7 linked regions of the Homo sapiens genome follow. The protein of the gene in region 4 purifies or fractionates together with the protein of the main gene of each other region. This does not show direct contact. Each region holds a gene or a part of one and is shown on either strand. Other genes may lie near its edges.

Evidence for each region.
Region 1: the proteins of SLC25A14 (region 4) and TTC13 purify together in Homo sapiens (affinity purification with mass spectrometry; one large-scale study listed by BioGRID and IntAct). This does not show direct contact.
Region 2: the proteins of SLC25A14 (region 4) and UGGT1 purify together in Homo sapiens (affinity purification with mass spectrometry; one large-scale study listed by BioGRID and IntAct). This does not show direct contact.
Region 3: the proteins of SLC25A14 (region 4) and PRDX4 purify together in Homo sapiens (affinity purification with mass spectrometry; one large-scale study listed by BioGRID and IntAct). This does not show direct contact.
Region 5: the proteins of SLC25A14 (region 4) and PPIC purify together in Homo sapiens (affinity purification with mass spectrometry; one large-scale study listed by BioGRID and IntAct). This does not show direct contact.
Region 6: the proteins of SLC25A14 (region 4) and UGGT2 purify together in Homo sapiens (affinity purification with mass spectrometry; one large-scale study listed by BioGRID and IntAct). This does not show direct contact.
Region 7: the proteins of SLC25A14 (region 4) and DNAJC3 purify together in Homo sapiens (affinity purification with mass spectrometry; one large-scale study listed by BioGRID and IntAct). This does not show direct contact.

Annotation. Positions count from the first base shown.
Region 1 is NC_000001.11:230,968,862-230,972,361, reverse strand, and holds part of TTC13 (tetratricopeptide repeat protein 13 isoform a precursor), read left to right. Parts: intron 1-3,500.
Region 2 is NC_000002.12:128,181,700-128,185,199, reverse strand, and holds part of UGGT1 (UDP-glucose:glycoprotein glucosyltransferase 1 precursor), read right to left. Parts: intron 3,071-3,500; coding exon 2,910-3,070; intron 1,526-2,909; coding exon 1,411-1,525; intron 1-1,410. UniProt on the Homo sapiens protein: Recognizes glycoproteins with minor folding defects. Reglucosylates single N-glycans near the misfolded part of the protein, thus providing quality control for protein folding in the endoplasmic reticulum.
Region 3 is NC_000023.11:23,673,993-23,677,492, forward strand, and holds part of PRDX4 (peroxiredoxin-4 precursor), read left to right. Parts: intron 1-997; coding exon 998-1,114; intron 1,115-3,500. UniProt on the Homo sapiens protein: Thiol-specific peroxidase that catalyzes the reduction of hydrogen peroxide and organic hydroperoxides to water and alcohols, respectively.
Region 4 is NC_000023.11:130,346,419-130,349,918, forward strand, and holds part of SLC25A14 (brain mitochondrial carrier protein 1 isoform 1 precursor), read left to right. Parts: intron 1-125; coding exon 126-273; intron 274-2,832; coding exon 2,833-2,927; intron 2,928-3,405; exon of another isoform or gene 3,406-3,449; intron 3,450-3,500. UniProt on the Homo sapiens protein: Transports inorganic anions (sulfate, sulfite, thiosulfate and phosphate) and, to a lesser extent, a variety of dicarboxylates (e.g. malonate, malate and citramalate) and, even more so, aspartate and glutamate and tricarboxylates.
Region 5 is NC_000005.10:123,030,226-123,033,725, reverse strand, and holds part of PPIC (peptidyl-prolyl cis-trans isomerase C precursor), read left to right. Parts: intron 1-3,500. UniProt on the Homo sapiens protein: PPIase that catalyzes the cis-trans isomerization of proline imidic peptide bonds in oligopeptides and may therefore assist protein folding.
Region 6 is NC_000013.11:96,043,402-96,046,901, reverse strand, and holds part of UGGT2 (UDP-glucose:glycoprotein glucosyltransferase 2 precursor), read left to right. Parts: intron 1-3,500. UniProt on the Homo sapiens protein: Recognizes glycoproteins with minor folding defects. Reglucosylates single N-glycans near the misfolded part of the protein, thus providing quality control for protein folding in the endoplasmic reticulum.
Region 7 is NC_000013.11:95,760,639-95,764,138, reverse strand, and holds part of DNAJC3 (dnaJ homolog subfamily C member 3 precursor), read right to left. Parts: intron 3,461-3,500; coding exon 3,341-3,460; intron 497-3,340; coding exon 391-496; intron 307-390; coding exon 186-306; intron 1-185. UniProt on the Homo sapiens protein: Involved in the unfolded protein response (UPR) during endoplasmic reticulum (ER) stress.

The sequences.
Region 1 (3,500 bases), on a different chromosome or scaffold from region 4:
GGAGAGTGCATATGTCCTAAGTGTAGATAGCTCAATACGTTTTCATAAGCTGAACAACTGATGTAATCAGAAAGAACCGAAATCAATAGCTGTCTGTTTTTAAGATTGCCGATAGTCTCATTCCATGCTAACCCTAGTTTCATTTGGGAAATGTTTTGTCTGATTTAGAGTCCAGCACCATGCAGTGGACTTACACTGCACATGTGCTGGCATTCTTTCCATAGACTCTCACTTAGGAATCAGTTGGTGCATCTCAGGACCACCTCTGCACAAGAAGACCAGTTGTCTTCTCTTGCAACTCTTCCCTGCTGGTGTTTGCAATGTTCTCAGTGACTCTGTGTTCCCTTGTCACTAATCTTTTCATGTCAGTGCCTAGCTCTGTTTCAGCATTCCCTGTGGAGTTGATGTTGTCTGCCAGTATGTGTGGGCTTATGAGAAAGCTTTTAGCTCTTAAAAGTATGTGTCACTTTGAGCATCTGATGCATCTTCAATCTAGTTTATAACCTTATGCTAAGTAACTGGCCTTTGTGGGGAAGGCCTGTTTTGTTGGTTAAGGCATCCTTCTTCTGTTCTGTTCCATGTAATTTGCTACTGTGCCTGTTTTTCCATCCCGTGCAGTGAATTCCTTTTCTTTTGATTCTTTACATATGTTTATATTTGTATGTGGGTTAAGATACCTTTGATCCTATTACATTCAAGCTTTGTTAAAAAACAAAAAACTTCTGTCTCTTTAAGATGGCTTTTGTGGATCCTTAGTTCCTATGGATTAATTATATGTTTACTTTATAATTTAATAATCAGCAGGCAGTGTCTATTTTCAATTTGCTTTACGATAATACATCTCAGGTACCGATGAATATTTCATTTCATTAAATGAAGCATATAAATTCTTCAGAGCATTTTTCCTGTTATTACACTCTCAAAGGAATTTACCACTTGGGACCATATTTCGGGGCCATTGAGCAATGCAGTATATGATGTCAACTGTGGTTGTCTTTTTTTTTTTTTTTTTTTTTGAGATGGAGTCTTGCTCTGTTGCCCAGGCTGGAGTGCAGTGGTGCAATCTCGGCTCACTGCAAGCTCTGCCTCCTGGGTCCATGCCATTCTCCTGCCTCAGCCTCCCGAGTAGCTGGGACTACAGGCGCCCGCCACCACGCCCGGCTAATTTTTTTGTATTTTTAATAGAGACAGGGTTCCACCATGTTAGCCAGGATGGTCTCGATCTCCTGACCTCGTGATCCGCCTGCCTCGGCCTCCCAAAGTGCTGGCATTATAGGCATGAGCCACCGCGCCTGGCCACCTGTGGTTGTCTTATAAGTGCAGAAATTGATAAAAGCAAAAGGCACTACAAGTTGATACCACACAGCCACCTGGCCTTCAGGTAGTTCTTTCAGCCACAAGAATTCTGTCTTCTCTTCGCAGGTTTACCCTATACCTGGGGTTAGGATTGTCAATAAATATCTGGCACTCTACTTTTAAGTTGTAGCTCATCCAAGGGAAAAGCCCAGTCATCCTTATTTTCAAGTAGCTCAGTGTGCTGTCTGTTATAACTAGGTGGTCGAGTGATAAGTGCTACCCAGCAGCTGTTGATTTCCTTATAAATTGGCCATGGGTTTGCCACTTATAAGCTTTCAGTCAGTTTTCTCACACACATGGATGTGTGAGAAATACATGCTACTGCCAATGCCACCTTCTCTCCTTCCTTGGAGGTGACGACTGTCATCTTATTTGACTAAGAAGCAGTGAGAAAACAACTTCCTTGCTCCCCACCACCCCAGCTACTGGCCTGCCCGCAGATGGACTGGTAGATTTTGCCTTCTGTCCTGTTGTGGTGGATGAGTGGCCGGTGCCTCTGCCTAGTTCAGCTCTCTGTTCACTGGCTCTCATTTCCTCTTGTCTTCCGTCAGCATACAGATGGTCTTAATAAAACTACCATCCTGAAAATACAAGCAACTAAGATGACCACACACCCCTCCAGCCACTGCCCCATCCCTCTGCCTCCTTTTACAGCAGAATTCCTCAAAGGAGATGTTCATATGGACTGCCTCCACCACTCCACTCTCTCTTGGACCTTCTATGGTTAGCTTTTGTCCTCGTCAATGTGCTGAAACTGCTCTTCTTAAGGTCAGTTGTGTGTGAGGTTTAGGAGGAGAGGAAAGAAGTTTCAAGACACTGCTATACCTAAACTGTTCATTACTAGGACCCAGCATTGGCAGAAGGAGTTGTGACAAATGTACCATGTTCTTCATTGCTGTGGCAAGACCCGGCTGTGCTATGTCTTTGTTTTGTGACCTTAAACATGTTCATTAACATTGAGTTTATTTCCCCATGTGTACAGTGGGCACAGTGTGCCTTGTATCTACCTTGGAGGATGGAGAATCAAAAGAAATGAGGTTTATGAAGGTATTTGGAAGCTGGGAAGTACTGTGAAGGCCAAGATAAGCTTAAAGAAAGCAGATAGAAAAATTTAACAAAAAAACACTGCGATTTTAGCCTATAAGCCTATACTAACATTTAACAATCCTTTTCTGTGCACAGGGCTTTATACCCTTTATTCTTCACAGTAGCCCTGTGAAGGTATCTGGGGGTGGTTATTTCTATTTTGCAGATGAAGGAGCTGAGGCTAAGACGTACTAAAGGACTTGCTCTAAGTCAAACAGTCAGGGAAGCATCTAATCTGGGTTAGTCTGACTCCATAGCCCTGCCCTGAGCCACTGTTACATTGCCTTCAAACTAATTAATTAAGTTTGAAGTCAGAGAAATACTAGAATTAAATATAAGACCTAGTTCTTTGAAAATACTGCTTAAGATTAGACAGTTATCTAGCAAGCCTAATCAAGAAAAATGAGCAGAAACAAGTATTTGGCTTGAGGAATAAGCAAGTATAATAAATATGAAAATCATTATAATAACTGTATCCAGCTTTATGGCCCAGATGTAGAACCTTTCAAAGAAATGGATAGTTCTTTTAACAAAAGATAAATTGCTAAGTTGATTCTCCCACTATCTCTTAAATACTCATCTTCACCAGGTCAACTCTTCTCTTATTAAACGTAAGCTTCTTAAGCTTTCTTTTTCTTTTCTTTTCTTTTCTTTTTTTGAGATGGAGTGTCGCTTTGTCACCCAGGCTGGAGTGCAGTGGCGCAATCTCGGCTCACTGCAAGCTTCGCCTCCCAGGTTCACGCCATTCTCCTGCCTCAGCCTCTCGGATAGCTGGGACTACAGGCGCCTGCCACTGCACCCGGCTAGGTTTTTGTATTTTTAGTAGAGACGGGGTTTCACCGTGGTCTCGATCTCCTGACCTCGTGATCCGCCCACCTCAGCCTCCCAAAGTGCTGGGATTACAGGCGTGAGCCACCGCACCCAGCCCCCTAAGCTTTCTTAGAGACTGTACTTACAGTCTCAGCTTATCATCCACCATAAGTTAATGATTATCAAATCATCACATCCATATCTGTAGTATTTACCTTTCTCTGGACTTTCTTAACTACATGCTAGAG
Region 2 (3,500 bases), on a different chromosome or scaffold from region 4:
GAGAGAAACAAATACTGTTGGGTGATACCATTTTTGAACTCAAATTATTCCCCAAAATAATTCTGCAAAAACAACGCCTGACACACTACAGAAGATAAACAAATATGTGATAGACAGTATGAACAAAAGAATAACAGAAATAATACAACAGAATCAGATCCATAGTAGCTCCATAAATTAGAAGATACCAGGTATCACACAAATTTTAAAGTAAGTAGAGCCGGGCACTGTGGCTCGTGATTGTAATCCCGGCACTTTGGGAGGCCAAAGCGGGTGGATCACTTGAGGTCAGGAGTTTGAGACCAGCCTGGCCAACATGGTGAAACCCTGTCTCTACTGAAAATACAAAAATTAGCCAGGAGTGGTGGTGCGTGCCTGTAATCCTAGTTACTCAGGAGGCTGAGGCAGGAGGATCACTTGAACCCGGGAGGTGGAGGTTGCAGTGAGTGCAACCCAGAGCATGCCACTGCACTCCAGCCTGGGAAACAGAGTGAGATTCTGTCTCAAAACAAACAAACAAACAAAAAAGTTTACCTTTTATTATTCCATTGAGATAGAGGAGAAGAAAATGAGCAAATTAAACTAGTGTTTATGGATACATGCTTAAACAGTAAATCTATAAAGAAACAAAAATGATTACCATAAAAGTCGTGATGCTAGACACTTTTGTTAGGGAGGAAGGATGGCTTCTGGGATGCTGATAATGTTCTAGTTCTTGAACTAGGTTGTGGTATCTGGGTATTTGCTTCATAATAATTCCTGGATGTATGTGAATATGTATGTATGTTTTTTGTATACTTTTCTTTATGGATGCTACATATCACAATAAAGGTTTAAAAACATTTAAGTAGACTTAAGCAAAATAAAATGCTTAAAATATGTGAAATATGTATCCAAAACCCTTAAACTACAATCTCACCTCTGAAAAATGCTTAACATTAACAAACAGTAATTTAGCTAGCCTTGAAACACATCATGGTTTCTGACATAGAAAAAGGGGAAGCTGTGATACTATACTGTGATTCTATACTACGAATCCTGAGCTATTTAGTTCCTACAGCAGAAAAACAAACTGACCCTAGTAGGTAGAGAAACAAACCTATGAGATTAGTTTGAGTACAAAATACAAAGATATGCTAATGGTTCAGAGAGGCAGCATTCTCCTTCCATCTCTCTCCCCAGCCAGCATCAAATCTATGACATTTTTCACGCTGATATGTCTTGAGGGCAGATAAAAATCTCTCTCTCTCTCTCTCTCTCTCACACACACACACACACACACACACACACCATGAAAAAACAAGACGCCATCCTGTGAGGAGAGGACTGAAGACACAAGTAATACTTCATTTTCTGATGCAACACTGTATACCCGTCACTCACAGTTAACCATAAAAAATGGACACTTACTTGATCAAGATTTGAAAGGCTGTTAGGGTCCTGACTCAGACCTTGGTACTGTCCCCTGAGTCTGTCACCAGCAGCTATTTTCCTAAACTTCTTCAGATCCACAACATATAGTGCACTGAATAAAGAAGACCCGCTTGTTACAACCAACCATGGATTACGACAGGAAAACTAAACCCAATGAATAATGGAACAGGCCACTAGCCAAATATTCTGGCTTTTCTTTGAAAAGGTATGCTACAGCCCTACAGTGGAGTTAAAGTGTGCTACTTTAAAGATCTCTAAGAAAGTCACTGCAAAATCTATACTGTGCTATGCTTTTGTTACTGTTCTGTATTTGCCATCCGAAAGAAATAATCTCAGACCAAAGATTTCTAGCATATGCGGCAGTAACAAAAGCCATAGTAACTGATAAACAACCATTATTCAATGATATCCTGATGATGTCTTCAATGTTACAGGGGGGGGAAAACCCCAGAGTGTTACAGTCCTTACAGTTCTTTTGGACCAGGAATGTAAAGAATGAAGCCACCATCACTAAACCCCAGCAGTGATCTCTGCATGTGCCGCTTCCTACACGTTCCTCTTCCCTGCACATCTTCAAATCACACTTCTCGCAGAGAAGAGAATGGGGTGCTCATTAGAAATGTAACAACACACACACTGTTCGACCTAAAAGGTCTACGTCTAGGAATTTATCTCACAAATATATGAGATATGAAAAATTATTTAGTAGATTATTCATTGCAACATTGTAGGTCACAGGGAAAACTATAAATAACACTCACACACTGGAATAATATGCAGCTATGAAAAGGAATCAGGTCTCTCTCTATTCACTGAGAAGATGTATATGACATTAAGTAAAAAAAAAAAAAAAAAAGCCAAGTTACAAAATGTATAAATAGGTAGCATATTTTGTGTAAAAAAAAAAAGAATACACATTCACAGCTGTTTCTGTAAGAATTAAGAAAATCTGGAAGGATAGACAGTCAATAAGTTGGGAGGTTATCTGCTGTGAGAACAGGAACTGAGTAGGAAAGAGAGAGACAGGATTAGGAAGTTTTTTTTACACTGTATTTTTTTTTTTTTTTGAGATGGAATCTCACTCTGTCATCCAGGCTGGAGTGCAGCGGCGTGATCTCAGCTCACTGCAACCTCCGCCTCCTGGGTTCAAGCAATTCTCCTGCCTTAGCCTCCCGAGTAGCTGGGATTACAGGCGCCCACCACCATGCCCAGCTAATTTTTGTATTTTTAGTAGAGACGGGGTTTCGCCATGTTGGCCAGGCTGGTCTTGAAATCCTGACCTCAGGTGATCCACCTGCCTTGGCATCCCAAAGTGCTGGGATTAAGGCATGAGCCACTGCACCCAGCCACTGTGTATTTTTTATCATTTTTATTTTTCAACCATACCAATGTATTACCTATTCACAATTTTAACCACACAAAATCAATTTTAAGGAAAACCCCGTAACAGTGTTAGGAGTGCTTCTTTTCAGTACCTGATATGATACTTTCGCCCGGCTAAATGACTGGCCCAGTACCCTGACTTCCAGAACCTGTAGCCGTCCATTTCTCTTCGGCTGTCACAGAAAGGAGTGTAACCATAAGGAGCACCATCCAAATTGAAATCTCTTAACTCTTTCAGATCTGTTCGTACAATCTGGAGAATATAAAAAGTCATTTGTTAAGCAACCATGCAGACAGCTCTAATGCGGTTTCCTTCAGATACAGAGTGGCTCGCTTAAGGCAGCATGGAAGGCTGCTCCGTGGTTAGTGGCACAGGCACTAGGGGCAGATGCACTTTGATTGCTCCACTTATTACCTGGTTGACTCACTAACATGTAAGACACTTCTTAGCAAGGTGTGTGGGAGTAGGAATAAAACAAATTTCAACTGCTTAGCCTTTCTGTGCCTCAGTTTCTTCATCTGTAAAATGGAGATAATGATAATGACAGTACCTATCTCACAGGGTTGCTGGGAGGATTATGTAAGTTAACATATGGATGGACAGATGTAGAATAATGCCTTGCCCATCGTAAGTACTCAACAAGGATTAAATGTGGCTATGTTACAATCAGGAAGGCACACTT
Region 3 (3,500 bases), about 110 Mb from region 4:
GTAGGAAATACATTTTTCGTTGTCAGCCAGTACACAGGCACATATATATACGGTAACATTCCATCTGGATGCACCAGCACAGCCATGCTCCTTAAAATACTGAAAAACCCTCATATCATGTGGTAAATAGCCACTTCCCTTTCCTCACCAACTAGTTAGTCCTCCTGCCTGATCCCTTTCAGAAACCTCCAGAACTAAAGCCAGCTTTGAGTTAAGATTGTTAAATATTTTGAATATCATCACTGTTGAAGACAAACATATATATTTGTATATATAAATATGTGTTTCATAATTTACCCTTAGTATGTATGATAGAGTCTCCTGTTTTCTATTCGATTTCACTTTTTAAAAATATTTTTTAGAACTCAGTTAATTTAAGGAGTCCCTACCACGGTTTGAAAAAATGCCACCCTAGTAATATTCTGTAAACATGGCCTGACAACATGAGGGTATTAAGGTATAAAATCCCTGGCTGCACAGGACTGGTAGACAAGGTGGAAGAGGACCTTATCAAGAAAGGAGGGGTGGGGGTACTGGAAAACATTGCCTCCTCTCCAAAATACACATAGATGCATCTAATTCATAGGGTTGGTATAGGAATATTAAAAAAAAAATAGTGAAATGACATAAAATTTGTATAGATCCTTTGAAAGCTATAAAATACTATATAAATAAAAGGTATTATTAAATAAAAGTAATAAAATGAGGGGTGGCTATTGCTATAAGGGAGAAGGGAACATTGGTTGACTACTGATCTATTAAGTTGTAATAAGAAAGTTTATTGAGATGTAGTTGGGAACTCTGTAATATGTTTCTGTCTTAAATATTTGATTAAATGACAGTCTTTTAGACTACTCCATTTTGAAAAGGTTCAAATATAAAATTGTTCTTAATGTGCATTTTTATTATTAAAGGTATTTGTAAAAATTGTCATTTGAAAGTTTAGGTATATGCTTATTTGGAGAATACTGAATATTTTTTTTTTTTTACCTTTCAGCACATTTGTGTGTCCAACTGAAATTATCGCTTTTGGCGACAGACTTGAAGAATTCAGATCTATAAATACTGAAGTGGTAGCATGCTCTGTTGATTCACAGTTTACCCATTTGGCCTGGTCAGTATCTTACACTTATATTCGTAGAAAAAAAAGAATGGATTTACTCTTAAAGCATGGACAGATAACTCTTGATATGATATAAGAATATAGTCATTTATCAGACAATTCAGGAATAGCTTTATCTAAGAGTAATACATGTAACTACACATTTTCCAGGTTAAAAAAAGAGAGAAGAGTAATATAATCAGCTGCTATAATAAAAATGCTTAAGGATTTTATAGGACATTTCAAAATAAGGGGAAAAGTTAAATGCAATAGATGTGATTTCTATAGCGAAAACCACTGAATTATATGCTTATGATAAATTGGGTTACCATAATCTGGAGGAAAAAAATCTTTAAAATATGCCATTTCTCTGTTACACAGTTATATAGTCAAACTCAGCTTTTACAATTTTGAAGAAACAATACTTTTTAAAAATGAATTTTAAAAAATGTTTAAAAATTCATTAATCATAAAAAGATGTTTTACCTAAATTCGTTATAAAGAATTGCAAATTAAAATGACGAGATGCCAATTTTCCCTGTCTGGTTGGCCAAGATTTAAAAGATTGAAAAAATGTATCCACTGTGGACAAAAATTGAAGAAACGGCACTCACACACAGCTGTTTAGCATTTCTGGAGAGCAGTTGGGCAACATGTCTCAAAATTGGAAATTTACATGTTAATATGAGTTTTTATAGTGTCCACAGTCTTGTGCAGAAAACTTTGTGCACAATAAAGACCATTCAGAATTGGGCTGGGCACAGTGGCTCATGCCTCTAATCCCAGCACTTTGGGAGGCCGAGGCAGGCAGATCACCTGAGGTCGGGAGTTCGAGACCAGCCTGACCAACATGGAGAAACCCCGTCTCTACTAAAAATACAAAATTAGCCAGGCGTGGTAGCAGGTGCCTGTAATCCCAGCAACTCAGGAGGCTGAGGCAGGAGAATCACTTGAACCCAGGAGGTGGAGGTTGCAGTGAGCCGAGGTCACGCCATTGCACTCCAGCCTGGGCAACTGGGCAATGAGAGTGAAACTCCATCTCAAAAAAAAAAAAAAAAAAAAAAAAAAAAAAAGATTCAGAACTATTGGTTTTAAAACATAATATTCAATTTATTAAAGTTACAAATTTGAAACACAAGCTTTTCTCATTTATAATCTGTGTGTGTATAACAAATTTTCATTGCTTGGTGAGCTACAATTTAATTAATTACATTTCCCTAAGAAATTAATTCCCATAAGTATTTTTAAATGCAGTTATATATTTAATATATTTGAATTCCTTAAGTATCTCAATTTTCAGACAAACCTTCCCAAATACTTAAGTAGTTCTAATATGCCAAATTCTCTTAAACATTATAAATAACTTAACATATAAATATGTACTGATTATTTCTTAATGTAAAAATATTAAAATAGCCTGGCATGGTGGCTCACGCCTATAATCCCAGCACTTTGGGAGGTCAAAGCAGGAGAATCATTTCAACCCAGGAGTTCAAGACCAGCCTGGGCAACATAGTGAGACCCCATCTATACAAAAAATAAAAAAAATTAGCCAGGTCTGGTGGTGCATGCCTGTGGTCCCAGCTACTCGGGAGCCTGAGATGGAAGGATGACCTGAGCCTAGGTGGTCGAGGCTGTAGTGAGCCAAGATCATACCACTGCACTTCAGCCTGGGCAATAGAGTGAGATCCTGTCTCAAAAAAAAAAAAAAAATTAAAATATAGGCTTAATTTGCTTCATCATTTCCTTTAAAAAAAGAAAGACAGGGTCTTACTATGTTGCCCAGGCTGGAGTGCAGTGGCACAATCAATCATAGCTCCCTGCAGCCTTGAACTCCTGGGCTCCAACAATCCTTCTACCTCCCCAAATAGTTGGGACTGCAAGCTTGCACCACCATACCTATTTTAATTTTTATTTTTGTAGAGATGGAGTCTTGCCATGTTGCCCGGGCTGTGCTTCATCACTTCTGTAGTAATTATAAATCTTCCGAGGATTAAAATGCATATCCACTAAGGAAAAAGTTATGGCATCCCAAATAATTTGGGATTGCTTTCCCAAGGAAATTTGGGGATACATTCTCAGCCTGATAGGGTTCACATCAACCAGAAATTTCTACTTGGGTGTCAGAACTGGGGCTCCAGATATCTAGAGCAATGTCGTTTTGTTTTCTATCTGCTGTGTCAGTACCCTCCTGTTAGAGCATCAGCCCATGTCTCCTGGTTTCAAGTTACAGAATACAGATTGAGCGTCCCTAACCTGAAATCCACAGTGTTCCAAAATTCAAAATTTGAGTGCTGACATGATGCTCAAAGGAAATGCTTAGTGAAGCATTTCAGAGTTCAGATTAGGGATGTTCAACCAGTAAGTATGCAGATATACCAAAATCGGAAAAAATCCT
Region 4 (3,500 bases):
AGCTCTTCTATGTGTTATAAAAAGGACTTTGTCTTAGGATTCAAATATTGTCCTTGGCTTATATTTAGCAACAACTTAACTGTGATTCTTTGGACATACTTATAAATAAGTGTGTTCCTTTATAGGGACTTTCCCTGTGGACCTTACCAAAACACGACTTCAGGTTCAAGGCCAAAGCATTGATGCCCGTTTCAAAGAGATAAAATATAGAGGGATGTTCCATGCGCTGTTTCGCATCTGTAAAGAGGAAGGTGTATTGGCTCTCTATTCAGGGTGAGACTGGTTCTTTCCTTATATCATTAACAGAAATGCTTTTTAAAGAAGCCATAGTTTTCAGCTGTCTGATAGTTTGTGTCCGTTTCATATTCACCATTTCAACTTGTAATTCAGTATTGATATGCCAGTTTATATTTCTCCTGCTTGTAAGTCTTGAGCTTTGGATTTTGTGTTCATTTGGTTATAAGTGATAATAACATTTTAAAATGGATATGTCATTGCAGCATAGGCTTTCTGTGGATTTCCCGAGAGTCACTAATAGCCACTGTTAATAACAGCACCAATTAATTATATATATTTTTGTGATATCCCTCCTGAGTTGGCAAATTCTGACTTCCTTTAAAATTTTCCTCTTTGAAAAAATATTATTCTTGCAGTTTAAACAGAAAGTGCATAATGAGAGAGAGGGAGACCCATCTTTATCATCACCTTTTGATTAGCCATAATTTTGTGGTTTACTGTCTAGTTTGTAGTTTATCTGTTGCCAGTTTCCTAGGCCACTCCTGCATCTAGGCTACCAGTTTATTACTCAGAGAATAGACATCAATTTTATTGTTAAACTATGTTACATCGTTAAACTATGTTAGACTTAATTTAAAAGGTAATTTTCTTGGGGGAAAAATCAAGTAGTGTATCCTGAAGCATCCTGAAGATGATCCACCATCCTGATTTGTGGATCATCTGTTTCACCTTGTTCTTTCATCAGCATAGATCATCACAAGATATTTTCTGATAGCAAGCAATAAAGTCAGAAATATGCATATTTAGTCATCATTTAAAAATCCTAACCATTTGAGCTGCTGCTGTCTTTCTATTTATACCTCCTACAGTATAGTTCTGCAATTTGGAAGAATCCCAAAGGAGGTATGAATGAGAATGTCTCCAGTTTAAAGGAGAACTTAAATAGGGTGGAATTTTGGCTCTAGTACCTCCTTGTTGATGTGATTAAAGACGTATCTGCAACTGTTAGGAAGTAGAGGTTGATTTTTTTAAAAAAATCTTTATTAGGTGAGCAATGATGTATAATTCTTTTTATACATTGCTGGATTCAATTTACCAATATTTTCTTAAGGAGTTTTGCATCTAAGTTCATGAGAGACATTAGTCTGTGGTTTTCCTTTTTTGTACTGTTTTTGTCTGGTTTTGGTATCAGGGTAATACTAGCCAAAATTAGTTGGGAAGCATTCCCTCTTCTGTTTTCTGGAAGGAACTGTGTAAGCTTAGTGTTAATTTTTAAAATGTTTTGTAGAATTCCCCAGTGAAATTATCTGGGGCTATTTCTTTTTGGGGAACATTTAAATTCAGAGTGCAAATTCTTTAAGGTTATCATAGTTTGGGGTGCTATAACAAAATACCATAGACTGGGTGACTTATAAACAATCGGAATTTATTTCTCACAGTTCTGGAGGCAGGAAATCTGAGATCGGTGCCAGTTTGGTCAGGTTCTGCTGAGGTCTCTTTTCTGGGTTGCAGACTGCCAAGACTTCTTATTGTATCCTCACATGGCAGACAGAGTGAGGGAGCTCTCTGGGATCCCTTTTATAAGGGCACTAATCCTGTTCATGAGGGCTTTACCCTCATGACCTAATCACCTCCTATTACCATCATATTGCGGGTTAGGATTTTAAGATCTTGATTTGGGGACGATACAAACATTCAGTCCATTGCAATGGGTATGAGTTTTATTCAGATTATTTGTTTTATCTAGTTGAGTTTTGGTAGCTTCTGGTTTTCAAGGAATTTGTCCATTTCTTCTAAGGTGTTGAATTTATGAGTATAAAGTTGTTTATACCATACTCTTATTGTCCTTTTAATGGCTGCAGGAATTGTAGTGCTAGTCCCTGTTTCATTTCTTATTTGCATCTTCTGTCTTTTTATCTTTGTGAGTCTTGCTAGAGGTTTATCAATTTTGTTGATTTTTTTTTAAAGAGCTAACTTTTTGTTTCATTGATTTTTCTCTATTTTCCTATTTTCAATTTCATTGATTTGTGCTTTTTATTATTTTCTTTTGCTTGCTTTGGGTTATTTTGCTTTTCTTTTTCTAGTTTCTTGAGGTAGGAGCATAGATTATTGATTTGAGACTCTACCCCCCCCCCCCCTTTTTTTTTTTTAAAATGCAAGCATTTCATGCTGTAAATTTCCCTCAGCACTGCTTTGGCTGCATCTCATACATTTTAATAGGTTGAATTTTGTTGTCATTTAGACCTGTGAATTAAAAAAAAATTCCTTTGACAGACACTTGGTCTGACCAATAGATTATTTAGATATATATTGTTTAATTTCTAAATGTTTGAGGATTTTTCTTATTGATTTCTGGTTTGATTCCATTATTGTCAGATAACATATTGTATATGATTTCAGTTCTTTTAAATTTGTTGAGGTTGGTTTTATGACCCAGAATGTTCAGTTTCTTGCTGAGTGTTTCATGAGTGCTTGAAAAAAATCATATTCTGCTGTTGTTGGGTAGAATGAGATGGGTAGTCCAAATAAGTAGGCTATCTAGATATGTATAATCTGAAAATGTTGAGAATAACTTTTTACTTTTTTTTTTTTCAGAATTGCTCCTGCGTTGCTAAGACAAGCATCATATGGCACCATTAAAATTGGGATTTACCAAAGCTTGAAGCGCTTATTCGTAGAACGTTTAGAAGGTCAGTATACTTACCCTCTTTTGAGGTGATACTCAAAGGGATTGTTGAAATCATGCTTAGTGAGAAATGTTGGTCATGAGGTGCCTGAGAATGGAGGAGAGTCACTGCAAAGACAAAGTGAGCTTGTTCTAACTTGGAATAAATCTTTGCAGAGGTGATATATGAATTAGAGAGACCTGTTCTTCAAATTTGTCCCTTTTCCTATCAACAAAAAAGGCATGTGATCATCCCAAAAGAAACATGGAACAATCTTGTCCAGAAAATTAATGCTATCTTCATCAATAAGAGGACTTCAACTGTAAGGCATTTTCTAGCTGGCAATTTTGATAAGCTTTTATTAGGCAGAATAATTTTAGGCTGTTTTCTAAATTCTGATGTACCTTTGGCTACCTTATGCATATTCAGCATTATCATATGTCTGTTTGCTGCTGTAGCATTTTCCATCATGATACTACACTAAATGGTTATTTTACCACAGGCCTGGGGCTGTTGGATGTTTGGGGACAGCTGGAAAGCCTTTCGGTTAGTAATGTCCTTTGAATCACTTTATTGTCCTAAAGTCAACTTTTTCTG
Region 5 (3,500 bases), on a different chromosome or scaffold from region 4:
CTCCTTTGTCAAATGGAGATAGAAATCATCCCTACCTGGGAGGGCTTTGCACATTAGATGTGGTAAAGCAGATGTCTTAGTCCATTTATGTTGCTATAAAAGAATACTTGAGGCTGGGCAATTTATGAAGAAAAAAGGTTTATTTAGCTCACGGCTCTGCTATGAGCTGTAAGATTCAAGACTGGGCATCTGGTGACAGCCTCAGGCTGCTTCCAGTCACGGCGGCGGAAGGTGATAGGGAGCAGGCAGGTGCAGATCACGTGGAGAGAGAGGAAGCTGAAGGGGGTGGTGCCAGCTTCCTTTTAAAACCAGTTCTCATGGGAACTAACAAAGTGAGAACCCATTCACTACTGAGATGGCACCAAGCCATTCATGAGGGATCTACACCCATGACTCAAACACCTCGCATTAGGCCCCACCTCCAACATTAGGATCAAATATCCAAACCATAGCAGCAGGTAAAGCACATAGTCCATAGTCCCTGATTTCAGAAGTCACTTGTTAGTGTTATTTGTGTTTATCTTCTTAATCCTACTGTGACAGAGCAGACCTGAAAGGAATCATCATTTATTTTACAGATGAAGAAAGGGAGTTCAGAGTTTAATTAACTTGCTGAAGTTTCCATGGCCATTGAGTGGTGGAGCTGCATTTGAGAACAGTTTCTTCCACATCGCAGCTCATGTACTGGGTGTGTTCCCTAGTTACTTTGGAAATGGAATCAGGATTAATTCCACAGGGGTTTGGGTCAGGCTGTGTAAGTGCCTCCTCCCTCTTCCTCTACCTCCTCCCATCTCCAATGCCGAGTAATTTTCAAATGACTTTCAAGGGCAGCCTTGAGGGAAAAAACAAGTGACTGAGGTGCTCACCCCAAAGTCTAGCATGGAATCCAATATCACCTTTCCCAGGAAGCCCACACTTATCTCCACAGATAATCACCACCCCTTACCATGACACCTTATCTGTACTTGTCTTATAAAATCTGACTTCTCATTATATTATAGCATTCATATATGTGTTTTCTGTTGGACTGAAGCTCCTTGAGGGTAGGAGCTTTGTAGCCCCACCCCACCCCTGGCCCAGCACTGGGTTTTGTTCCCAGAGGCACTCAGCAACATCAGAGATGAATCCAGTGGTGAGAGGGTTTAGAGTGAGAGTGTTTGCTGGCAGCTGTCTCACCTCCTGTCTAGGAATGTGTGTGCCCAGGTCCTCCTTGAGTATCATTTGACATTGAATCTTTTAACATTTCTTGACTGCCTCCTCCTGCTGACCTTTAGCTGGCCACTGGGGAACTAAAAACACTGTTTCTACTCCTTAGGGTTTCCCTGGCTCGACCCGGAGAGCCCTATTAACAATAAACCAGTTTAGCTAGAGGCAGCCTTGAAATTCTGGCTCTCACACTCATAGTAGGGAAACCTTGGTAAATCACTTAACCTCCCTAATTCCCACTTTTCTCATTTGTAAATTAGTGATAATAGTTCCTGTCCCACCTTTCCCAGTGTGGTGAGGATGAATTATATAAGATGATGTGGGTTACCCACACTGAGACCACCACTAAGTCATGTTTGCTTCCTTCCCTCTTTCTTCCTGCTCCTCCTCCAGTGTCTGCCCCTTTGTTTAAACGCCTCTCCTGGCTGGGCGCTGTGGCTCATGCCTGTAATCCCAGCACTTTGGGAGGCCAAGATGGGCGGATCACTTACGGTCAGGAGTTCGAGACCAGCCTGGCCAATATGGCGAAACCCCGTCTCTAGTAAAAATACAAAAATTAGCCAGGTGTGGTGGTACACACCTGTAATCCCAGCTACTCTGGAGGCTGAGGCACAAGAGTCACTTGAACCTGGGAGGCAGGGGTTGCAGTGAGCCAAGATTGTGCCACTGCACTCCAGCCTAGACGACAGAATGAGATTCTGTCTCAGTAAATAAGTAAATAAATAAATGCCTTTTCTGTCTCCCTCGTACATTTCCTTCTGCCACCACCCCAGTGCAGGCCATTATGACCTTATTCTTCAACTGGTATAAGAGCCCCAGATTCTCTTTCTCTCCGTTTGAGTAACATTCCCAGAGCCTCGCTTGACCTTATTCTTTGTCTTCTCTCTTTTGCCTAACAAAACTCATGCTTACGTCAGCATCTCTCCTCTGCCTTCTGGAACTGGTGGGCAGCTTCTTTCCTGGCCCCCCACCCACTCTAACCCCTAGTTGTGGTCAGAAGGGCAGCTTTGCTTCTCTGCACACAGGTCACATTTCCTGCCTAGGTGCATTGGTTCCAGAAAGAAGTCTGCCAGGCAAGGCTCACCCCCATCCTTGTTTGGGGAGATGGCTCCCCTCCTCCCAGGCCTGCCTCCCTTCAAGCCTTCCTCCTTAGCCTCACCGTTCCTGCAGGCCTGGGCATACAGTGTTTGGGGGGCATTTGTCACACACTGCCCTGTACTGTGGTTATGGGTTTGCCTATCCTATCTCTTTATTTTAAACTGCCTTAGGACAGGGACTCTCTTATACAGTTTGTGCCCTCACATTGCCTTTTACATAACCTTGCATAAATACTTATTGACAAAATGAGATTGGATTTTATCCTTTCCAGTAGAGTTGGCAAAACCTGCTGTGTGTTCTTATGCTCACTCATGAAGCTGAAGGATATTTCAATTTGGGGAAAAAAATTATAATAATATGTGTGCTAGGCTGTGTGTAAAAATATGTGATTTTTGCTGAAGAGTTATGTTGGGTGACAGGTACTTTTTCTTCATCTGCTCATGCTGCTCTCCCAGATCTTATTCCCTTCCTAAACATTCACAGGCTTTGTTTTCTCTTCTTTATTTTAAAAGTCTGGAAGGCTCTTCTAGTGTCTCGTATGATGTTTCTTTAAGGTTTCATCTCTGGCTTCCGGGTGCTGCTTCGTTATTGCTGGTTATTGAATTTACACCTTGGCTTGCAAATCCCTTTGGAGAAACTGCTTCTCTTGTAAGCCGGCTCTGCACTGACCAGGCCCATGGGTGTGTTGAAGCACCTTCCTATCCCAAGCCATGCTGAATTGCACTCCTTTAATACACTGCCCCTTCTCATGCATTCTATAAAGCTCTTCTATATAAGTAATAATAAAAGTTTTGCTGCTTTGGCCATGTAAAAATTGTAAAATGCCACATGGAACACTAAATATCACATCACCCTGTGACAGATGTACTGATGTATTGGCAGAAGCTCTTGACTTGAACTGAAGCTTGACAGTCTTTACTTACTGATTTTTCTAAACTGTAAGACATCTTTTTTCTTTGACAACCGTTCTTATATTTTTTAAAGCCATCTCTTGAATGTCTTTTTTACCCATTCAAACAGTAAATTGGTTCATATAATCTAAACGCGCTAATAGAATGCCCTTTGACTCTGTGGCCTTTTCAAGCGTTCTATTTCAGAATCATCTTAACACAGTGATTTGTGAAGCAAAATGCATATAATTTTGTTTCAGATGAGACAGTTAAAAACAAGTCCAAGAGAACTTTTATGGTTTTACC
Region 6 (3,500 bases), on a different chromosome or scaffold from region 4:
CTTGCGGTTGGATCTCAGACTGCTGTGCTAGCAATGAGGGAGGCTCCGTGGACATGGGACTCTTCAAGCCATGCGCAGGATATAATCTCCTGGTGTGCCGTTTGCTAAGACCGTTGGAAAAGCGCAGTATTAGGGTAGGAGTGACCCGATTTTCCAGGTGCCATCTGTCACGGCTTCCCTTGGCTAGGAAAGGGAATTCCCCGACCTCTTGCACTTTCCGGGTGAGGCGATGCCTTGCCCCGCTTCGGCTCACACTCTGTGGGCTGCACCCACTGCCCTGTACCCACTGTCTGACAAGCCCCAATGAGATGAACCTGGTACCTCAGTTGGAAATGCGGAAATCACCTTTCTTCTGCATCGCTCATGCTAGGAGCTGTAGACTGGAGCTGTTCCTATTCAGCCATCTTGGAACCTCTCTCCTATTTATCTTTGTTTTTATTGCATTTGCTTTGGGGTTCTTGGTCATGAAATCCTTGCCTAAGCCAATGTCTAAAAGGGTTTTTCTGAGGTTATCTTCTAGAATTTTTATAGTTTCAGGTCTTAGATTTAAGTCCTTGATCCATCTTGAATTGATTTTTGTATAACGCGAGAGATAAGAATCCAGTTTCATTCTCCTACATGTGGCTTGCCAAGTATCCCAGCACCATTTTTTTGAATAGAGTGTCCTTTCCCCACTTTGTTTTTGTTTGCTTTCTCGAAGGTCAGTTGGCTGGAAGTATTTGGGTTTATTTCTGGATTCTCTATTACGTTCCATTGGTCTATGTGCCTGTTTTTACACCAGTACCATGCTGTTTTGGAGACTATGGTTTTATAGTATAGTTTAAAATCAGGTAATGTGATTCCTCCAGATTTATTCTTTTTGCTTAATCTTGCTTTGGCTGTGTGGGCTCTTTTTTGGTTCCATATGAATTTTAGGATTTTTTTTCTAGTTTTGTGAAGAATGATGGTGGTATTTTGATGGGAATTGCATTGAATTTGTAGATTGCTTTTGGCAGTATGGTCATTTTCACAGTATTGATTCTACCCATCCATGAGCGTGGGGTATGGTTCCATTTGTTTGTGTCGTCTATGATTTCTTTCAGCAGTGTTTTGTAGTTTTCCTTGTAGAGATCTTTCACCTCATTTGTTAGGTGTATTCCTAAGCATTTTATTTTTGTTGGAGCTGTTGTAAAAGGGGTTGAGTTCTTGATTAGATTCTCAGTTTGGTCGCTGTTGGTATATAAGAGAGCAACTGATTTGTGTACATTAATTTTGTATCTGGAAACTTTGCTGAATTCTTTTATCAGTTCTTGGAGCTTTTTGGAGGAGTCTTTGGGGTTTTCTAGGTATATAATCGTATCATCAGTTAACAGCGACAGTTTGACTTCCTCTTTACTGATTTGGATGCCCTTTATTTCTTTCTCTTGTCTGATTGTTCTGACTAGGACTTCCATTACTATGTTGAATAGAAGTGGTGAGAGTGGGCATGGTTGCCTTGTTCCAGTTCTCAGAGGGAATGCTTTAAACTTTTCCCCATTCAGTATTATGTTGGCTGTGGGTTTGTCATAGATGGCTTTTATTACATTGAGGTATGTCCCTTGTATGCCGATTTTGTTGAGAGTTTTAATCATAAAGGGGTGCTTGATTTTGTCAAATGCTTTTTCTGCGTCTATTGAGATGATCATGTAATATTTATTTTTAATTCTGTTTATCTGGTGTATCACATTTATTGACTTGCCTATATTAAACCATCCCTGTTATGAAACCCACTTCATAATGGTGGATTATCTTTTTGATACATTGTTGGATTCGGTTAGCTAGTATATTGTTAAGGATTTTTACATCTGTGTTCATCAGGGATATTGGTATGTAGTTTCCTTTTTTGGTTATGTTTTTTTCCTGGTTTTGGTATTCGGATGATACTGGCTTCATAGAATGATTTCAGGAGGATTCCCTCTTTCTGTCTCGTGGAATAGTGTCAATAGGATTCGTACGAATTCTTTGAATGTCTGGTAGAATTTGGCTGTGAATATGTCTGGTCCTGGACGTTTTTATGTTGACAATTTTTTATTACAATTTTAATCTCGCTGCTTACTATTGTTCTGTTCAGGGTATCTAATTCTTCCTGATTTAAGCTAGGAGGGTTGTATCTTTCCAGGAATTTATCCATCTCCTCTAGGTTTTCTACTTTATGCATATAAAGTTGTTCATGGTAGCCTTGAATGATCTTTTGTATTTCTGTGGTGTCAGTTGTAATAGCTCCCATTTCATTTCTAATTGAGCTTATTTGGATTTTCTCTTTTTTCTTCTTGTTTAATCTTGCTAATGGTCTATTTATGTTATCTTTTCAAAGAACTAGCTTTTTGTTTCATTTATCTTTTGTATTTTTTGTTTGTTTCAATTTCATTTAGTTCTGCTCTAATCTTGGTTATTTCACTTCTACTGGGATTGGGTTTGGTTTGTTCTGTTTCTTTAGTTCCTTGAGGTTAGACCTTAGATTGTCTGTGCACCTTCAGACTTTCTGATGTAGGCATTTAGGGCTATGAACTTTCCTCTTAGCAGAGCCTTTGCTGTATCCCAGAGGTTTTGATAGGTTGTGTCACTGTTGTTGTTCGGTTCAAAAACATTTTAAATTTCCATCTTGATTTCATTGTTGACTTATTCAGGAGAAGGTTATTTAATTTCCATGTATTTGCATGGTTTTGAAGGTTCCTTTTAGGGTTGATTTTCAGTTTTATTCCACTGTGGTCTGAGAGAGTGTTTGATATAATGTCAGTTTTCTTAAATTTATTGAGGTTTGATTTGTGGCCTATCAGTGGTCTACCTTGGAAAAAGTTTCATGCACTGATGATGAATAGAATGTATATTCTGTGGTTGTTGGGTAGAATGTTCTGTAAATATCTGTTAAGTCCATTTTTTCCAGGGTATAGTTTCAATCCATTGTTTCTTTGTTGACTTTCTGTCTTGATGACCTGTCTAGTGCTATCAGTGCAGTATTGAAGTCTCCAACTATTATTTTGTTACTGTGTATCTCATTTCTTAAGTCTAGTAGTAATTGTTTTATAAATTTGGGAACTCCATTATTGCATATATATTTCAGATTGTAATATTTCCGTGTTGGACAAGGCCTTTTATCATTATATAATGTCCCTCTTTGTCTTTTTTTAACTGTTGTTGCTTTAACATTTGTTTTATCTCATATAAGAATAGCTACTCTTGCTCGCTTTTGGTGTCCATTTGCATGGAATATCTTTTTCTACCCCTTTACCTTAAGTTTATGTGAGTCCTTAGGTGATAGGTAAGTCTCTTGAAGACAGCAGATGGTTGGTGAATTCTTATCCATTCTGCAGTTCTGTATCTTTTAAGTGGAGCATTTAGGCCCTTTACATTCAATGTTAGTATTGAGATGTGAGGTACCATTCTATTCATTGTGCTATTTGTTGCCTGTATACCTTGTTTTTTTAATTGTATTTTTGTTTTATAGGTCCTGCGAGATTTATGTTTTAAAGAGGTTCTGTTTT
Region 7 (3,500 bases), on a different chromosome or scaffold from region 4:
CCTCACATGGTATACCTTTCAGGTTCCACTATGGAAGAGTAATTTTCAAGTTCTCTGCCATTTTTCTAAAATTGTCAACATTTCCAGGTACTCTGGTAAATTTGTTTTAAGGAAAAGGAAGCTTAAAATGTGATAATTTCCTAATCAACACTTCGGTACTGCAAATCAAATCCTTAAAGATTTACCTTCATCATACATTTCCTCTATCAAATAGGCCTCTGCTCGATCTTTCAGGGCATTCACATTGTCAGGTTCCATCTGTAAAACTTCAGAACAAACCCTAATAGCTTCAACAGGCTTCTCGTCCTAAAAGGAAATGTGAGACAAGGATTTATGGTTGGTATTCCACATGTTGAGTTTTCACATTTCTGGGAACAAGTCAACTGTTACCTTAGAAAAGCAGTGGCAAATCCTCTCCTTTGAACGAACTGTATATTCAGCAATGCTTGGCTCTGTTTTCATGACAGATTCATATTTGCTGGTAGCATCTGTGTATCTAAGAAATGAGCAAATCATGATAAGAAATGATGACATTTGATTTCCAGAGCTGTAGAAAGGCTCCTCCCCTCTTCACCATGTGTTGCTTAATCAATCCAATTGGATGAGCCCATGGCTTCAGATTCGGCTTTTCCCTTATTAATCTAGAGTCCCATAGAAGGTACACTCCATAATTAAGAGTTAGGAAATAAAAACATATGACCATAGGAGATGCAGATGGACAGAACAAAGCATACCTGTGAGTATAAGTACCAATCAAACCAGAAGAATTTCCTTACAGAAACATTGCTCAGAATTCCAAACCTGAGTAAAACACCCTGTTGAAGTCTGACTTACACTGAGCACCTTGAACAATACAGAGATCAAGTTTTATTTCTTGGTCAGTAAACACTTCCATGAAAATAATGGAACCCATTACGTGCCATTTTATATAATTAATGTCAGTATTTACAACAAAGTACAACGTAGTTCACACAAAAGGTACCTGATTAAATTCCCAACTGTATAAGCTTTCTAAGAATAAAAGCTATTTCAGCATTTTCTTTAAACCAGTAAAAAGTACTAATCCTGTTATATACTCAGTTATTTCCCTCAACAATAGTAAAGTAAAAAATATGTTTCTATGCCATGGTGGCACACTATTCCCAAAGTGCTACAATCTTCATATGTAAATATGCCAATGTATTAAAACACAGGCTTAACTAAAACATTTAAAATAAAAGCCAGCTTCTCTATCATCCTCAGCAAACTAACGCAGGAACAGAAAACAAAGCACTGCATATTCTCACTCATAAGTGGGAGCTGAACAATGAGAACACATGGACACAGGGAGGGGAACATCACACACGGAGGCCTGTGTGGGGCAGGCAGCAAGGGGAGGGAGAGCATCAGGACAAATAGCTAATGCATGTGGGGCTTAATACCTAAGTAATGGGTTGATAGGTGCAGCAAACCACCATGGCACACGTTTACCTATGTAACAAACCTCCACATTCTGCACATACATCCTGGAACTTAAAGAAGAAAACAAAAAAGCCAGCTTCTGGGAAAGTGGAATAGATGTATTTGTCCCAAGTGCTCCAGCTAAGCACAACTAAAAAACCCTAGAGATTATATGTATATTTTTTAAAATAGAAAACTTTCAAAGGAGGAAAAGAGACAGACTAGCTAGTGACTCAGGACCTGAGGAAAACATGGTAAGACGTTCCCTGGGTTCTTTTTTTTTGTTTCATATATCCCAGACTTGGAGCTGAAGATTCCAGCAATGCAGAAACGCCAACAGGTACAGAACGACAATAACAAAAACCTGCAGAAGTCTGCTCTGTCTAGCCAGAGGACCTGAAAAGGACAGACTTGCAAACAGAAAACATTTTTTTTAGAGACGGAGTTTCGCTCTTGTTGCCCAGGCTGGAGTGTAATGGCACAATCTCGGCTCACCGCAACCTCAACTTCCCGGGTTCAAGCGATTCTCCCACCTCAGCCTCCGCAGTAGCTGGGATTACAGGCATGCGCCACCACGCCCGGCTAATTTTGTATTTTTAGTAGAGACAGGGTTTCTCCGTGTTGGTCAGGCTGGTCTCAAACTCCCAACCTCAGGTCCTTCAATGGATAAATGGTTAAACAAACTGCAGTAAATCCATACCATGGAAACTACTCAACAGTAAACAAGGAGGAATTATTGATACAATATGGATAAATCTCCAGACAATTCGAATGAGGGGGAAAAAAGCCCATCCTGCCAGCTGTGGTAGCATGCATCTGAAGTCCCAGCTACTCAGAAGGCTGAGGCAGAAGGATCACTTGAGTGTACTATGACTGTATCTGTGAACAGGTGGGCAACATAGTGAGATTGTCTCAAAAAAAAAAAAAGCCAATCCCAAAAGTTTATACATTGTATGATTCTATTTATGTAACATTCTTAAAATGACAGAATTCTACAAGTGAATAGATTAGTGGTTGCCACAAGCTAAGGAAGGGATAGGAACAAGAGGGAAGTAGGTGTGGCTATAAGGGCAACATGAGGTGTCCTTGTTGGGATGGAATTATTCTGTATCTTGACTGCACCCACGTCAATATCCTGATTGTGACAATGTACTATAGTTTTGCAAGGCGTTATAGTCTGCAAGATGTTGGGGGAAACCGAGTGAAGCATTCTCATGATGGCAACTTACAAAGCTACTAAAAGTAGAGGAATTGGAGCCTATTTTCTATTAGGCAGTTTTGTCTGCAGTGCCCTCTACTCTTTTCAGTCCTCCTGCCCAGCCTATAAACCCCCTACAAACAACACTCACACAGACACAGCCTCTTACTTCTGTCCACTTTTACTTATTCTTTAGGATTAGGATTTAAATATCTATCACCTTCTCTAAAAAAAAAAGCTCCTCTTTTACTCCTTGCCTTTACCATCCTGGTTTGGAGTAAATACTCCTCTTTGGTACTCCAATTATCCTATGTACATTCTATCACTTTGGTATCATATTGTCTTTTAATAATCAATTCATATATTTGTCTCCCACGCAATGCTATAAACTTCTTAAGAACAAAAACTATTGTCAAGTTTAAGTCTGCACCCTCAGTACATAGCTCAGCCTGATATAGGAGATAATAAATATTTGGTATAGTACAAGTAATTCTGCTGGTAAGGATACTACACAGTTACTATTATTTATATTCTTCCCTATTCCAAAAATGTCCAATTCTGGTAGTTTTGCTAAGGCCCAGGGCTATCTAGAATACCCCACCCTCAATGGCTGAGAAGTAAAAGAGCAGTTCTGTAGTTCACTTGTGCCCACAGCCCCGCACATAAGGAATGGCTGGACAGTTGGAACAACCATATTCTCACCTGCCATCTCTGATGAGCTCTTCAGCTGACTCAATCAGCTTATTAAGTTTCTTTACTTGTTTATAGTGTGCAAAACACCTTTTATGATCCTGGTCAAGTTTAAGACATTCCCGAACTTCACTGTTCATGTATTTAAAAAAGGAAAATACTCCATGTCAAA